3 linked regions of the Homo sapiens genome follow. The protein of the gene in region 2 purifies or fractionates together with the protein of the main gene of each other region. This does not show direct contact. Each region holds a gene or a part of one and is shown on either strand. Other genes may lie near its edges.

Evidence for each region.
Region 1: the proteins of NLRP1 (region 2) and SMC2 fractionate together in Homo sapiens (co-fractionation; one large-scale study listed by BioGRID). This does not show direct contact.
Region 3: the proteins of NLRP1 (region 2) and IFT81 purify together in Homo sapiens (affinity purification with mass spectrometry, with the first as the bait; one study listed by BioGRID). This does not show direct contact.

The regions. Positions count from the first base shown.
Region 1 is NC_000009.12:104,128,809-104,132,308, forward strand, and holds part of SMC2 (structural maintenance of chromosomes protein 2), read left to right. Parts: intron 1-836; coding exon 837-1,037; intron 1,038-3,200; coding exon 3,201-3,317; intron 3,318-3,500. UniProt on the Homo sapiens protein: Central component of the condensin complex, a complex required for conversion of interphase chromatin into mitotic-like condense chromosomes.
Region 2 is NC_000017.11:5,557,010-5,560,509, forward strand, and holds part of NLRP1 (NACHT, LRR and PYD domains-containing protein 1), read right to left. Parts: intron 3,035-3,500; coding exon 1,330-3,034; intron 1-1,329.
Region 3 is NC_000012.12:110,130,857-110,134,356, forward strand, and holds part of IFT81 (intraflagellar transport protein 81 homolog), read left to right. Parts: intron 1-1,690; coding exon 1,691-1,780; intron 1,781-3,500. UniProt on the Homo sapiens protein: Component of the intraflagellar transport (IFT) complex B: together with IFT74, forms a tubulin-binding module that specifically mediates transport of tubulin within the cilium. Binds tubulin via its CH (calponin-homology)-like region.

The DNA of each region.
Region 1 (3,500 bases), on a different chromosome or scaffold from region 2:
TGTGCCTTTTTCAAAAGGTGGGGAGCAGGATAGAGTCAATGTTTAGGGCAGTTTCTTAGAATATATTTCTGAGAGAAAAATTATTAGGTCTCAGTCAGCATTAGGCTTCCATGATTTTTACCAAATCTATGACTTAAGTATTAAAAGAGTTTTAGCTTCTCATAAGTTGTGTTTTGAAGCAATAGATTGAATTTGGTAAATTCTGAAGGAGTTCTACCTGACTTACATTTCATTCTAATGGAGGTGCTTTGCGTATACTTCGTAAAAATTTCTCTGTGAGTTGGCTCTTCTAATGCCAAAGTAATAGGAAGATCTTTTGCTATACAGTGTCTTGTTTCTGTAGTCTGTGTTCCAGGTAAAAATATTCATCTTTATTCTTGTCAGTAATGAAACTCATTTTTAAAAATGAGTCGCCTAGGCACGGTGGCTCACGCCTGTAATCCCAGCACTTTGGGAGGCCGAGGTTGGCAGATCACCTGAGGTCGGGAGTTCCAGATCAGCCTGACCAACATGGAGAAACCCCGTCTCTACTAAAAATACAAAATTAGCTGGGCGTGGTGGTACATACCTGTGATCCCAGTTACTCAGGAGGCTGAGGCAGCAGAATCACTTGAACCTGGGAGGTGTAAGTTGCGGTCAGCCAAGATCGCGCCATTGCACTCCAGCTTGGGCAACAAGAGTGAAACTCCATCTCAAAAAAAAAAAAAAAATTAGTCATTGAAGGTTTTTTCCTCTTCAGTATTTGATTCAAAAGTATTAAATAGTTAAGAAACTGGCTTATACATATTGGTTTGTAAACATTCATAGATCTCCCATCTATTTTTATATGTGGCTAGGTATCCAAAATGTTGAAAGATTATGACTGGATTAATGCAGAGAGACACCTCTTTGGCCAACCCAATAGTGCCTATGATTTCAAAACTAACAACCCTAAAGAAGCTGGTCAGAGACTTCAGAAGTTGCAAGAAATGAAGGAGAAACTAGGAAGAAATGTCAATATGAGAGCTATGAATGTATTGACAGAAGCTGAAGAGCGAGTAAGTCAATTTCTTATGAATATCTGGCCGCATTAGAACATGACTAGCATTGACAGCTCTGTATGACCTCTGATGCAATTATTAGAGTTAACCTTTTGCAGATGTCCTTGATACTTTTCTTTCTGCTTTCCTTTTTCTCTTTTCGTCATTTTTTTCTTATTACTCTTATGCATCATTAGTTGTTTTTACATTCTATTACACCTGGAATGACTTTTTCACTGGCTTTTGTTCTTTGTCAAACATAATTCCTCACATTTCTATCATTTCATTTCTTTCACTTGCATTGAAAAGCCTTGAATAGGATATACTTCTGTCATCCTCTTGACTCTACTGTATACTGAAACTATATAAGTAATGACTAAAGCCATTATACACATAAATACTGTTTCACTGATCTGTAAATTCTGCAGCCTCTTCTCAGTTTTAATGCTCTCAATTACTCAATAATGTTATTCTTCCCTAACCTGACAAAACTTTGAGTCTGGGAAGGGAGTTTACTGTCATCTAGTGATGAACTTGGGAGGACCTATCACTAGAAAAACCCAGTGGGGGAAGCATTCCCTACTCTTAAGATAGCCATAAGAAATGGCTATCTTAGTAATTTTATATTAATGCCCCTATTAATGCCCCATACCTTCCTGAATGCTGGAAAATTCTGTTTGAATTTGCAAATCAGAGTAAAATTCATGAGAAATCTGCGACACTGATAATAGCACAGTTACTTTGAAGAAATTTTACCATAATTTTTTTTAACTGTTTTTGGCATGAATATGCACAAAGAGTCTATATTATATTAGATACCAAACAGATGAATCATGCAGGTATTGTGATCTCTCTAGAAAATGCTCCTGCTGGTTTTCATTTCTACATTAAAGCTTTGCAATATGTGATATATTTGTAGAAGGAAAACTTTGGTCTGAATTTGATCTGCATAACATGAAACTTGTTCACTTTTACTCGTTTACTTCTATTAGATGAGACCTGAGTCTAATATTTTTTTCAAAAGAATTTATCAACTCCCATCTCTTTACCAGAGGAGAAGCCTATATTGTTGATCAGCAGATGGCCTTTTTTTTTCTTGTGTTTTGTATCTATCTACATAAGCAATTACATGGATTTTCATGAAAAAATAAGATAAAAATGTAGAGAGAAGGTTAGGGGAGCGTGGCTGTAAAGAAGAGGGACAGCAAGGAAAACAGCAGGACTGACTAGAATTGTTAAAGGTGAATGTGAAGCCTCCTTGAAATGTAGGGCTTTGAGGAGAAATGAATTAGGAAGAGTTTTAGGAAGTCCCATTGCTGTTCATGGTATGATTATCCCTCTACAGCCTTGCTTGAAGGAAGACTACTCTAAAGTGGTGATATTTGAGCTGAAATTTCAGGCAACCGTTATGTCAGAGAAAGAGCATTCCAGGAAGGGAGAATAGTGCAGGGGCCATAAGACAATAGTGAGTTTATTATGTTCAAAGGAGCTGTAAAAGACCATATGGCCAGAACCTGGGGAGGAGTTTAATGCCATAAAGTCAAGGGATAAATAAGGTCCAATTCCCTTTATCCTGATGCATACAGGGCTTAAAACCTGGTTGATTGGTGCAGCAAGCCATCATGGCACATGTATACCTATGTAACAAACCTGCACATTCTGCACATGTATCCCAAAACTTAAAATTAAAAAAAAGTAAGGTCCAATTTATGTGGTTCCTATATATCATGGTGAAGGATCAAAATTTTGTTCATGTCACTGCTAAGGCTGACCTTAAGAGGAGAGCTTTCAGGGCTCCTTTTACTTAAGTTTATATGTAACACTTTTTTTTTTTTTTTTTGCCTTGGCTGCTAAGGAGATAAGGGAATATTAGTGGAGTCAAAATATTTTAAGGACTTTGTCTTATAAATTCTTAGTTCTAGTAATTTAGTTATATACATATGGATGATTTTATTCCTAATTTTGTTAAGAGTGTGTATATGAGTGTGTATATACACACACATCATACAGTATATGTATAGTATATGAGTATATATAATTCTTAGTGCATTATATCTTTTTGGTAAATAGCAATGTATGTATTGTATATAAAAATAATGAAAACTGTTTATTTCTGACCAAATTCCAGAATATAGAAGAGATTTTATATTTTCCCAGTTAACCATGTTTTTTATCTCATAGTACAATGACTTGATGAAGAAGAAGAGAATTGTAGAAAATGACAAATCCAAAATTCTTACAACTATAGAAGACCTTGACCAGAAGAAAAACCAAGCCCTAAATATTGCATGGCAAAAGGTACTTTTTATGTTTGTTTTATATGAGGTTGCAAGGATGAAAAAATATCATCAGTGGAGTTATACTCTATAAGAAATTTGAAATAGCTGATCTATGTTTGAATGAGGCACATATTCACACCTTAATTAAAACCTCTGACTTTTAAATGCATTTTTTTCTTTTTGAACTTGACTACTACCAGAT
Region 2 (3,500 bases):
TGTTTGTTTTTTGAGACGGAGTCTGGCTCTGTTGCCCAGGTTGGAGTTCAGTATCACGATCTCAGCTCATTGCAAACTCCGTCTCCCAGATTCAAGTGATTCTCATGCCTCAGTCTCCCTAATAGCTGGGATTACAGGCGTGTGCCACCATGCCCAGATAATTTTTGTATTTTTTGGTAGAGATGGGGTTTTGCCATGTTGGCCAGGCTGGTCTCGAACTCCTGGCCTCAAGTGATCCTCCTGCTTCAGCCTCCCAAAGTACTGGAATTACAGGTGTGAGCTACTTCACCCAGCCTACATATCTTTTTTTTTTTCCTATAATGAACATGAATTTTATTGTGAGAAAAAGTTTTAAAAATATAAATATGAAGGCCCACATCAAACATTTCTTCCTCTGAGAATCTTTATTACCCACTCGTGTGATCACTCCCTTCCTTGGGCCACCACAGTACCTTGTCCATACCTCTACTGTTGTAGACATCACACTCTGTTGTCATTAAATGAATGTTTGTCTTCTCCCCTATTTTTTGAGCTCCTTAAGGCACGTATTGTGCTTTTTAATCTGTGATCTGTAGGGCCTGGCATAGAATCAGTGCTTAATAAATACTTATGGAATGAATCATCTAAAGCAGGACATAGACACATACCAATAGCATGTGATCGATACCACGACAGAGGTCGGGGAACCGGGATGGGGAAGTTCTCAGTACTGCCGGGCTGGAGAATGGTTGGAGGAAGCTATTCTTGCACAGCCAGAGAGTGGGTTTCAGGTTGAGTGCGTGGGGCAATGGTGGCACCACGGTCACAAATAATTATGAAGTCAGTTTTGCAGGGAAAAATAGGAAACTCTTTTTGAGAGCTGATGGGGAAGATCTCAGGGCCAATGTCGTTGTCATGGAAAGGGTTCCTGAAGCAGCTGGAGGAGCAATTTCTCCGAGAGAATGAATGCCCAGAGAGAGGAGCAGGGGTAGGGGGGCTGCCTGATCCTTGGGGAGTGTGGGGGTAGCTAAGGTCAGCAGGAAGGTGGGAGCACGTCCAGGAGAGAAGATGGACGGTCATTCTAAGGGTAGGAGGAGAGGTGGCAGACACGGCAGGGCCCAGTGGCCTCTCCAGAAGCAAGCAGGGCCTGCCCCACAGCCGGGCACTGCAGAGGAGCTTAGGTAGACAGAGCATGGTGGTCAGATTGGGCAGTTAGAAGTCACTGGAGACCCTGATCCTTTAGCCACCCCCACCCCCGGCCAGGCTCAGTGAGCATGCCTCTGGTGCTCAGGTCACTCGGGCTTATGGACTGACAGAGGAGCTGCAGACATGGGTGGTTTGGGTACTCACAGGACTACCATGGTGGGGCTCCATGTTGATCTGTGCTGCCTGCCCTCAATCAGCTGAAGCTTCTTCACGTGGCGGCTGAATTTAATGCAGAAAGTGCACACTAAGAGCTCCATGTCTGTTTCTACACACATGCCCATTTCTTCGAAATGGGCCATCACTTGTGTCAGGAACGTTTTGTTCCGAGTCTCGTACAAGCAGTGGAGGGACTCCAGAGAGTGTGGCTGCAGCAGCAGCTGCAGGGACGGGACCCACTGCATCAGGTTCCTCCCCTGAGACAGCCGGCAGTGAAAGATGTTCTCCATCTCTCTCTCCCCCTCATCACTTAACAGGCCCAATAGGAAACGTGTGGTTGATGCCCCAAACAGGCCATGTATTCCATATGCTTCTAGCGTCTTTTCCAAATCTATGATGCAATTAGAATGTTTACCTCTCCCCTTCTCATCCTCCAAGACATAGGACATTGCTGCAAAGAACTCTTGGAAACAGAGGTGAATGAAGCTGTAGCTCAGAGGGATGGGGTGCTCTTGAAGAATACCCATCTTCAAGAAGGTGGAGATGATGGCCCCATCTAACCCATGCTTCCTGAGGTCATCTGGACTGAAAAGGGTCTTTTTTTGCCAGATGCCCTCAGCAGCCAGAGAGCAGAGGTCTCTGAGCTGGGGTCCCAATGGCTGAGCTTGGAGAGCCTGGGCAAGGTAATGTAGACAGAGGGTTGTGGTGGTCTTGGAAGTCAGTGTGAGTTTTTCCTTCCGCTTCATCTGCTGCATCAGGCAAGTGCAGGCCAGCCAGGACACCCAGGGCACAAGACACAGGGCCCAGAGCTCTTTGTTTGATTTGACCAACCTAAAGGCTCTAATTGCTTGCCTTTCATCTGTGAAATATCTGTAGAAATATTCCTTCCTGCTGGACTCAGAGAACCCCAGGACCTCTACCCAACGTGCCTGCTCCAAAGAAGGAATGAGGTTCTGCAGAGCTGTGGTCCGAGCCGTGATCAGGAAGGATGCCTCGGGAAGTATAGTTTTCCCCAGCAAACTGCCCAGCAGTGCATCCGCCGGCTGTGGCTGGCTCCAGTGCAGACAGAGCTCAGAACTCGGCTCCTGCAAGACCCATCCTGGCTCATCTACACCATCGAGGATGAAGAGCAGCCGCTCTGGCCTAGACAGGATCTGTCTAATGGGAGCCGGAGTGGCTGTCCCATCTTTTCCGATGAGCTCAGCGAGACTCACCACCTTGGACTGGGCCAGCTCTCTGCAGCTGAAGTAGAAGACATGCTGGAAGCGGTCCCCATACAGCTGGCCTCTCCCCCAGGCTTCCTTCACCTGCCTGGCCAGTGTTGACTTCCCAATTCCAGCAGCCCCCTGCAGTATGACTATGCGAGGTTCTTGGGTATCCAGGCCTGGGCCAAATAAGTCTCTGATCTCAATTAAATGTCCTCGATTCTCCTCCACATAATCAGGCCAGCTTCTCTTGACCAGGGGATCTTGGCTTCTGGGGTGAGGTCTTTGTAGAAGTAGCAGCTGTGTGAATTTTTGGTTAAAATCCTCATTTTTCCAGGGCCATGTGGAACAGAGGCTCTCTCTCACAGAAGGCTCCCATGGGTGGTGGTGGGGCTGTAGGCTGGTGTGCGCCTGTGGGGGCGTTCCTACCACCGCTGCCCATGGGGGCCTGCCTTTCTCTGATTTCTCTCTCTCTCTTTCTCTGATTTCTAAGTAAGGGAGGGAAAGAAGGAACATAAAGGTAGAGAATAGAAGAATTAATTAATTAATTAAACAACTGTTTTAGGCACCTACTCCAAGCCACACACTGCGCTGTCTGCAGACACTGGTATGTTCTTGCCATGCGGCGGAAGGACATGTGCTTTGGGGTAGAATATCCCAGTTCAAGTCTTGACTCAACTAAGTCACACTCCCTGAATGACTTTCCTTCACTGAATATTTATCAAGGGCTTACTCTGTGCCAGGTGCTGCTATAGGGGTTGGGGATAAAGAGTGAACAAAACAGACACAACTCTCAGTCCTCACTAAGCTTATGATGCTGGCCATTAGCCCCTATGAGCCTCAGTTTTCTCATCTGTAAGCTGGGGGTTGTAGGTCATGGAGGACTGGAGGAGACACTGGAGTGTGTAGCAGATGCTGACAGCATCCCAAGCACCTGCTATTGCAGTACCTGCC
Region 3 (3,500 bases), on a different chromosome or scaffold from region 2:
ATTTAGCCAGTCATTTCAGGAATCCTAATAAAAATACATATTATCTTTTGGAATGAAGGGTCTTATAATTAATAATTTGTAGATTTAAGATATGATCAATCAAGAAAAATATTATTCTGTCATTCCCCATCAAAATAACTTTTTGGCCAGGCACAGTGTCTCATGCCTTTAATCCTAGCACTTTGGGAGGCCAAGGTGGGCAGATTGCTTGAGCTCAGGAGTTCGAGACCAGCCTGGGCAACATGGTGAAACCCATCTCTACAAAAGATAAAAAAATTAGCCCAGCATGGTGACGTAAGCTTGTAGTCCCAATTACTTGGGAAGCTGAGGTGGGAGGATCACCTAAGCCCAGGGAGGTCGAGGCTGCAATGAGCTGTGATCGCACCACTGCACTCCAGCCAGGGTGACAGAGTGAAACCCTGTCTCAAAAACAACAAAAAAAAACTATTTTAAAAAATTTTTAGGTAACAGGATTTTTTTCATTCATTCAATTACTTTTTTTTTGTTTGAGACAGAGTCTCGCTTTGTCACCCAGGCTGGAGTGCAGTGGTGTGATCTCGGCTCACTGCAACCTCCACTTCCCAGGTTCAAGCAATTCTCCTGCCTCAAGCTCCTGAGTAGCTGGGATTATAGGTGTGCGCCACTGTGCCCAGCTAATTTTTTGTATTTTTAGTAGAGACAGGGTTTCACCATGTTGGCCAGGCTGGTCTCGAACTCCTGACCTCAAGTGATCCATCTGCCTCAGCATCCCAAAGTGCTAGGATTACAGGTGTGAGCCACCTCACCTGGCCCATTCAACTACTTTATATTAAACACCTCCATGGGTTATGCACTGTGCTAGGCCCTAGGGATACAAGGGTGTACACAATGAATATGATTCTTTTCCTCTTGGCTCTCACTATATGATGGAGGGAGACAGACAGAAAATTATAATAGTCAGTTATAATTGTACATGATATCTACTCTGATAGGATAGATAAAGGGCCAGAGAAGGCTTCTCTGAGAATAGTAGAATCTATGTGAAGACTTGAAGGATGAAAAGGAGTTGCTTAAGTTATGGGTGAGGGAGTCATAGATGTATAAGCTGGACGTGAGAGCATGGAATGTTCAGGAACTCAGACATCAACATAGCTAGTGTAGAGTGTGAAGCAGGAAAGTAACCAGAAATGAAGATAGAGAAGTATTTAGTGTTAAGATGGTAGAGATGTACTTTTTTGTACCCTATATAAATGTATAAGGATGTGTTTTTGTGTTTTTAATGCTGTTCTTACAATGACTTAAGTAATCGCTGTAAGTTAATAGATAACCTGATTAAGAAAACTCTATGGCTAGGCGCGGTGGCTCACGCCTGTAATCCCAGCACTTTGGGAGGCCAAAGCGGATGGATCATGAGGTCAGGAGTTCGAGACCAGCCTGAACATGGTGAAACCCCGTCTCTACTAAAAATACAAAAATTAGCCGGGCGTGGTGGCGCGCGCATGTAATCCCAGGTACTCAGGAGGCTGACGCAGGAGAATCGCTTGAATCTGGGAGGCGGAAGTTGTAGTGAGCCGAGATCGTGCCACTGCACTCCAGGCTGGGCGACAGAGCAAGAGTCTGTCTCAAAAAAAAAAAAAAAAGAAAGAAAGAAAGAAAGAAAACTCTACTGGATCTAGTTATTAGTTTATAATTTCTTAACTTATTCTTCTAGTATGAAGAGTTAATGGAAGCCTTTAAAACTTTGCATAAAGAATATGAGCAGCTCAAGATATCTGGATTTTCTACAGCAGAAATAAGAAAGGTAAAGGAAAGAAAACATAGTAACAATTTTTTTGGGATTTGAATAATATTGGATTTAGCATTTTATTAATTCAGTATGAGTCTTAAGACTATATGGAGACTAGTGATAGCAAATGGCACATTTTACTTTGTGGGGGGACCTTTGGTAGTTCCTTACTGATGAAATTGATGAGACTGGGGTAAATTCACGATGAGTAGTTACTTACAGTACGGAAGAAGAGTGATATATGTCCATCTACTATTCCTCCATTATGTCCTGTAAGTAAACCAGAATAATGACAAGAACCTAGAGTCTATATTTTAATTTATTCATTATTACTAAAGCTTTCTCTCTCTTTTTTTTTTTTTTTTTTGAGACAGGGTCTCACTCTGTCATTCAGACTGGAGTACAGTGGTGTGATCACAGCTCACTACAGTCTCGACATCCCAGGTTCAAATGATCCACATGCCTGAGCCTCCTGAGTAGCTGGGACTACAGGCATGCGCCACCATGCCCAGCTAATTTTTGTATTTTTTTGTAGAGACGGGATTTTGCCATGTTGCCCGGGTTGGTCTTGACCTCCTGGGCTCAAGCTATCCTCCCACCTTGGCCTCTCAAAGTACTGGGATTATAGGCATGAGCCACTGCTGCACCTAGCCTTTATTTCTTGTTTAATCATATTTTCTAAATTTTCTACAAAGCATATGTTCAAGAATACTTTAGTAGGCCAGGCATGGTAGCTCATGCCTGTAATCCAAACACTTTGGGTGGCCGAGGCTGGAGGATCATTTGAGCCCAAGAGTTTGAGACCAGCCTGGGCATGATGGCAAGATTCTGTCTCCAGAAAAAAAAAAAAAAACAAATTAGCCAGGCATGGTGGTGCACGCCTGTAGTCCCAGCTACTCAGGAAGCTGAGGCAGGAGGATCACTTGAGCCTGGGAGTTCAAGGCTGCAGTGAGCTATGATCATACCACTGCACTCTAGCTGGGTGACAGAGTGAGAACTTGTCTCAAAAAAAAAGAAAAGAAAAAATAATTCACTCATAATCTCGTTCTCCAGAGACAACTATGGTTGACATTTTGATAAATATATTTAAATCTTTTTCTTGGTATTCTGTAGATAAATGTTGTAATCCGCCTCTTTCAATTAATGTCATTTCATGACTTTTTCTCATGTCATTAAACATTCTTCTGCATGATTTTTAATGACTTTCATTGTATTATGTGGTGATTTATTTAACAATCCTCATACATTTTGGTCATTTCCAAATTGTAGATGTAACTTGCATTAATGAGAATCTTTACAGAGGATGTCTTTTCATGAATGTTTTATTCGGACAAATCATCAGATATAAAATTACTGGGCTAGAAGGGATGAACATTTATTTTAAGATTTTTTTTTTTGAGACGGAGTCTCACTCTGTCACCCAGGGTGGAGTGCAATGGCGCAATCTTGGCTCACTGCAACCTCCACCTCCTGGGTTCAAGCGATTCTCCTGCCTCAGCCTCCCAAGTAGCTGGGATTACAGGCACTTGCCACCACGCCTGGCTAGTTTTGTATTTTTAGTAGAGACAAAATTTCAACATGTTGGCCAGGCTATATTTTAAGACTTTTGATATTGTTCTTCAGTACAGTGCTATCGGTAATGAGTAAGAGTGCCCATTTTTCCAAATTCTGTCAATACTGACTACCGTGTATATTTTACCTTTACTATTACTGCGATATTTAAGCTATTAGTTTT